2 separate regions of the Homo sapiens genome follow, and region 1 is linked to region 2. Evidence: fine-mapped expression QTL. A gene starts in region 2. The other region holds a variant in brackets. All regions are shown on one strand. Distances are between the middles of the regions. Region 1 overlaps LINC01857 (long intergenic non-protein coding RNA 1857). Region 2 holds the start of CCNYL1 (cyclin Y like 1).

What was found. PIP is the estimated chance that this variant, and not a neighbour inherited with it, causes the effect. A credible set is the group of variants that fine-mapping cannot tell apart.
Region 1: its variant is the best candidate, but not a certain one, in a credible set for the expression of CCNYL1 in transverse colon (CEDAR, PIP 0.55).

What each region holds. Positions count from the first base shown.
Region 1 is chr2:207,678,494-207,681,406 of GRCh38, reverse strand. It overlaps LINC01857 (long intergenic non-protein coding RNA 1857), which reads right to left. Exons shown (of 4, transcript NR_135566.1): 4 at 2,285-2,865. It also overlaps the pseudogene RNU6-664P and the pseudogene PPP1R14BP2. Among named protein-coding and RNA genes, the nearest start is that of LINC01857, 18 kb to the right of the region's middle. The variant T/C (reference allele first, on the strand shown) is at 1,549.
Region 2 is chr2:207,710,051-207,712,963 of GRCh38, reverse strand. It overlaps CCNYL1 (cyclin Y like 1), which reads right to left and starts at 1,324. Exons shown (of 10, transcript NM_001330218.2): 1 at 848-1,324. The coding sequence starts at 1,067. RefSeq lists silencers at 501-660, 673-782, 1,203-1,652 and enhancers at 524-1,520, 1,873-1,922, 1,933-2,132.

The DNA of each region.
Region 1 (2,913 bases), 32 kb after region 2:
CCCCGCCCCCTCCCCGCGGATCCGCCCGCCCTTTGTCCCCCGCGGCCGCCCTAAAGAATGTTAAGGTTCCCTAGGACCAGATAGGATAACTTAATCATAAGATAAATACAAGTGAGGAAAGGAATTAGATGAAATAGTATGAAGGAAATAGAATTTAAGAATTCAAGCCTGGGTGCGGTGGCTCACGCCTGTAATCCCAGCACTTTGGTAGGCTGAGGCGGGTGGATCATTTGAGGTCAGGAGTTCGAGACCAGGCTGACCAACATGGAGAAACACTGTCTCTAATAAAAATAAAAATAAATCAGGCGTGGTGGCGCATGCCTGTAGTCCCAGCTACTCGAGAGGCTGAGGCAGGAGAATCACTTGAGCCCAGGAGGTGGAGGTTGCAGTGTATGGAGTTCATACCACTGCACTCCAGCCTGGGCAACAGAGCAAGACTCAGTCTCAAAAAACAGAATTCAGGGAAATTGGATTATCTATGTCTTTAATTTCTCACAAGTCAACTATGTTCACACAACCTGTATTTTTCATACAGTAGAGGCCTGAAATGCAAACCAATGACTTCATTTGTTGCCGATCCACAGCAACAGTGATGGACTCCAACGCTGGAGGAAAAACTGGCTGCACTGCGTTTATTAAGATACAGTAAAGAATATATTAATCCTGACTATTACTATACCCTGGACAATTCAAGGGATTTTTCCAGAGTAATATTCATAGATCAGATGCAATTTTCATTTGACCTACACTGTAGAATATAACTTTTGGTGCTAGTTTCAGCAGCACATATACTAAAATTGGAATGATGCAGAGAAGATTAGCATGTCCCCTGCATAAGGATGACATGCAAATTCATGAAGTGTTCCATATTTTAAAAATACCTATCAGGTACTACACTTAGTACCTGGGTAATGAAATATTCGTACACCAAATTCTCGTGACATGAGTTTACCTATATAACAAAACCGCATAATGAGCCCCTGAACCTAAAACAAAAGTTAAAAAAGAGAAAAAAAAAGAATATAATCTTTGGTTAAAAAGTGACTCCTACCTTGATTTTAAGAAAATTTTTATCATTTAGTTTAATTCCATTCAGGGATCATAAATAAATAGTCTAATTTTTTTAAAAAAATCGAGATAGAATTTACATAGCAGCATTCACTCTTTTAAAGTATAAATTTTTGTTGTTGTTGTTTGTTGTTTGTTTGTTTGAGGCAGAATCTTGCTCTGTCACCCAGGCTGGAGTGCAGTGGCATGATCTTGGCTCACTGCAACCTCCACCTCCCCAGTTCAAGTGATTCTCCTGCCTCAGCCTCCCGAGTAGCTGGGATTACAGGTGCCTGCAACCATGCCCGGCTAATTTTTGTATTTTTAGTAGAGACAGTGTTTCACCATGTTGGCGAGGCTGGTCTTGAACTCCTGACCTCAAGTGATCTGCCCGCCTCGGCCTCCCAAAGTGCTGGGATTACAGGCGTGAGCCACCACGCTTGGCCTGGAACCTCCCTTTCCAGTTTGAATTCCCTCATGTCTCCTACTCACACCTCTGTA[T/C]TTCCAGCATTACCTCCTCCTTCTCCTCCAGTCTAAATCCCACCCATTTTACAAGTCCCACTTCAAATCACGAGTTTTTGATAAAGCCTTCCCAGGCTATCCAGCCCTCAGAGACAGCTTCCCAAATCTCATTGCATGTAGTAGTTGCACCTTTTGTTTGGCAAATATTCTGCCTTTCTGGCATATATATATGGCACATTGTAGGTGCTGCATGTATATTAAGTGAATGAATGAATCTCTACACCAGATTATAAGCAAATTGAAAGTCGTGGCCTATGCTATGTTCTAATCCAGGGCTGTAGCGTGGTTGAGGAGAGATATATGGCAATGATGAAAATATTTGAGAAGCTTAGGAGCCCCAGGGAGGGAGGAGCATTTCCCAGAGTCCTCTCTGTTTCCTTAGTTTAGAGCAACACCGATTTACCTTCTGGCTATGATCAAAATGTTTTTGTCCCCCAGAATTCATATATTAAAAACCTAATCCTCAAGGCGATGGATGGTATTAGCAGGTGGGCCCATTGGGAAGTGATTAGGTCATGAGAGGGGAGCCCTCATGAATGGAATTAGTGCCCTCATGAAAGAGGCCCCAGAGGGCTGCCTCTCCCCTTCTACCACGTGAGAACACGGAGAGAAGGTATTGCTCACTAACCAGAACACAGGCTCTCCATAGACACCACATCTGCTGGCGTCTTGATCAAAGACTTCCCAGCCTCCAGAACCATGAAGAAACACATCGTTGTTGTTTGTTTGTTTGTTTATTTATTTTTTGAGACAGAGTTTCACTCTTGTTGGCCAGGCTAGAGTGCAATGGCACTATCTGGGCTCACCGCAACCTCCACCTTCTGGGTTCAAGCGATTCTCCTGCCTCAGCCTCCCCAGTAGCTGGGATTACAGGCATGCGCCTCCATGCCTGGCTAATTTCTGTATTTTTAGTAAAGACAGGTTTCACCATGTTGGCCAGGCTGGTCTCGAACTCCTGACCTCAAGGCCTGGTGCAGCGGCTCACACCTGTAACCCCAGCACTTTGGGAGGCCAGGCAGGCAGATCACCCAGTCAATGTTATAGCAGCCCAAACAGACTGAGACACTCCTGCAAAAGCATGCCAAGAGCAAAGGGCCTTTTCTTCTTTTAGGGTCAGGATCAGGGATGGCCTTTAGTAACCATTTTGCCTTGGACCTTTCCTGTCCAACTTCTCATGCTCTCTTGATTTGACACCCAGATGTATGGCCAGCAGACTCCTACAGGGCCACTAACAGCTCCTCTGCAAAGTGCTCTGATAGCACAAAGGTGTCAGTTCTTCCTCTCAGCCACCACTGCCTGTGGAGAGAGGGACAGAAGTAACAAGTGAGAAGACCCCTCATACCT
Region 2 (2,913 bases):
CACGCCTGTAATCCCAGCTACTCGGGAGGCTGAGGCAGAGGAATCGCTTGAAACCGAGAGGCGGAGGTTGCAGCGAGCCGAGATCGCGCCACTGCACTCCAGCCTGGGCGGGCGACAAAACGAGATTCCGTCTCAAAAAAACAACTTGTCTGCACCCCTGGTAATAACCTCTCACACCCTTCACAGTCATTTTACGCCCCTCCCCCCATTTTCTTTCTTTCTGTGTTCAAATTATAGTTGGAAGGAATAAAGCAGCTTCTTTCACGCCGACTTAACCTATTAGGAATACCATATAGTGTCTCCTATGGCAACCTCTATTTTGAGTCTAGATAAGAAATCCTCAAACATCTGGGTCTAAACTGTCGCGGGCATCAGCTATCTTCACGGATGGGAGGAAGGAACAATCAGACCCTTACCTGGTTCCTTCACTTAGGTACCATCTGGATGGGTTAAGGGAGGGAATGGGATGAGTACTCCGAAGTTGAGGTATTTGAGTTTCCATTGAGAAAAGGAAAACAATATACCCCAAAAGTCTTAGCAAAGTCCCACCAGACAATGAACAGAGCTACAAACAAGAAGGGCGGCGGACTAGAGGGTCCCACGCCGGCTTGGGAGAATGGGAAGCGGGAGCAAGAACTGGGCGTTACGGTAAGGAGGAGGAAAAGAAACTGGCCAGACGCAGCAGGGCAAGAATAAGGGGTGGGGACGCGAGGCAGAACCAGCCTTCGTCCCGGGGCCGGCTACCGGCAGGAAGGAGCCCGAGGCGGCGGATGCCTCCCGGGGGACTCTGGGGGAGGAGGCGGGCAGAGGTGAGCCCGAGGGCGGATGGCATCCGCCGCCTCCTTACCTTCGGGCATCTCGCGGTCGCTGATGTGCTGCAGGTGGTGGCCCTCGCCCTCTCCGAAATCCAACTCGGCAGGCTCCACCACAGCGGGCGCTACCGCCACCGCGTCCCCGGACACCGCCTCGTAGATGTCGGACGCGCAGTACAGCTCCGCCGACCCCGCGCGCCGGCCCAGCTTGGGGCTGGCATTGGGGGACACGCAACAGGTCAGCGTGTTCCCCATGGGAAGCCTCCGCTCCTCTCTGCCACCGCCTTCGCTCGCCCCCTACTCCGCCGCCCTCAACAGCCGCCCCCTCCCCCAACAATGGCGCGGCCGGCACCGGCAGCCCCGGGCTACGCTGGGGCTGCACCGCGCAAGCAGACGCCGCCTCGCCCGCGGTTCGCCCGCCCGCCCCGCGGCCCGGCCCCGGGCAGGGCTCGGGCCTCGGCCGCACCCCCACCGCCGCGCTGCCGCCGCCTCCCTTAAGCTGACTCGTCTGCGAGGGCGGTGACCAGCCCGGCTTATTTAAAAGGGGTGGGGAACCCAACAAGCGCTGTGAAGCACAGCCACTGCCGGGAGAGAGCGCGGCTGGAGCTCCTCCTCCTTCCGCCGCCGCCTACCGACTGAAGGCCGCTGGCCCTGGCCGGTGCCTGCCAACCGGAACGCGACCTGCGGTCACCTGGTTAGGAGGAACCAATCATGGTCAGAGTTCCCCCTCCGGCGCCCGCCTCGAAGCCAGGCACGTGACCTGCTGCCCCGCCCCCGCCTGGCAGCTGCCCAGCCCCTCACGCCGCTATCCCAGACTCGGGTTTTCATTCATCGCTGGCTGCTGGGAGCTTTCCGGTCCTACTGGAAGCGCACGGGCATTTGTAACTGGAAGCTGTGTCAATGATCTCTGTAGAAAGCCGTTATTAGTAAAGAGTTCGCTCCATTAGCAACTCTTCTTCCGAGTCTGACAGCTTTCGTTTGCTCACTAAACTTGGTTACACCCAAATTGTTAACTGTTTTTGTAACTCAGTGCTCCGCTCCTGTCTTCCAATGAGCGTTAGTTTTCACCTGCAACGTGATCATAGCAACCCTGGGGCCCTGGTCCTACTCTCCATAAAGAGTTGTGGCTGTGGGTCTTGAATGAGACTCGAGGACACGTCACCCTTCCACTTCCTCATCCATAAAATAGGGACCTAACTCGTCCCTGCCAACTCTGAAATGCTGGGACTCGCCAACTCCCTTTTCTTGCCTGTTTCTCTCCTCTAGGCAGGGACTTCCAGGTTTCTCTTCTTGTACTAAAAACAGCACAGAAAGCACGATTTTCTCACGCAAAACTGAGAACCATGCAGTGGGGCACCACAGTCTTGATTCCATGAAGATGAATAGTTACCATTTGGCAAGCACTATGTGCCAGACAGTGTTCCAACTGTGGTATATTTATTTAACCCTTAAAAACAATCCCGGCCGGGCGCGGTGGCTCATGCCTGTAATCCCAACACTTTGGGAGGCCGAGGCGGGCGGATCACCAGGTCAGGAGATCCAGACCATCCTGGCTAACACGGTGAAATCCCGTCTCTACTAAAAATACAAAAAATTAGCCGGGCATGGTGGCACGCGCCCGTATTCCCAGCTACTCGGGAGGCTGAGGCAGGAGAATCACTTGAACCCGGGAGGCAGAGGTTGCCGTAAGCCGAGATCGCGCCATTGCACTCCAGCCTGGGCGACCTAGGCTCCGTTTCAAAAAAATAAAACATAAAAATAAAAATAAATAAACAAATATATATATATACACACAATGTCACTTCCTCCCTAAGCTTGATTTCTACCTTTATTTTCTGATCATCATGATCAGGGACCCTCACCCTGAGCAGTCATGTAAGCTTGCGGAAGTAACTTAACTTCTGCGTCCCAATTTCTTCTATAAAACCTGCAAAATGGGATTGTTTTTTTTTTGTTTTTTTTTTTTTGAGACGGAGTTTTGCTCTTGTTGGGCGCGGTGGCTCACGTCTGTAATCCCAGCACTTAGAGAGGCAGAGGCGGGTGAATTGCTTGAGGTCAGGAGTTCAAGACCAGCCTGACCAACATGGAGAAACCCCGTCTC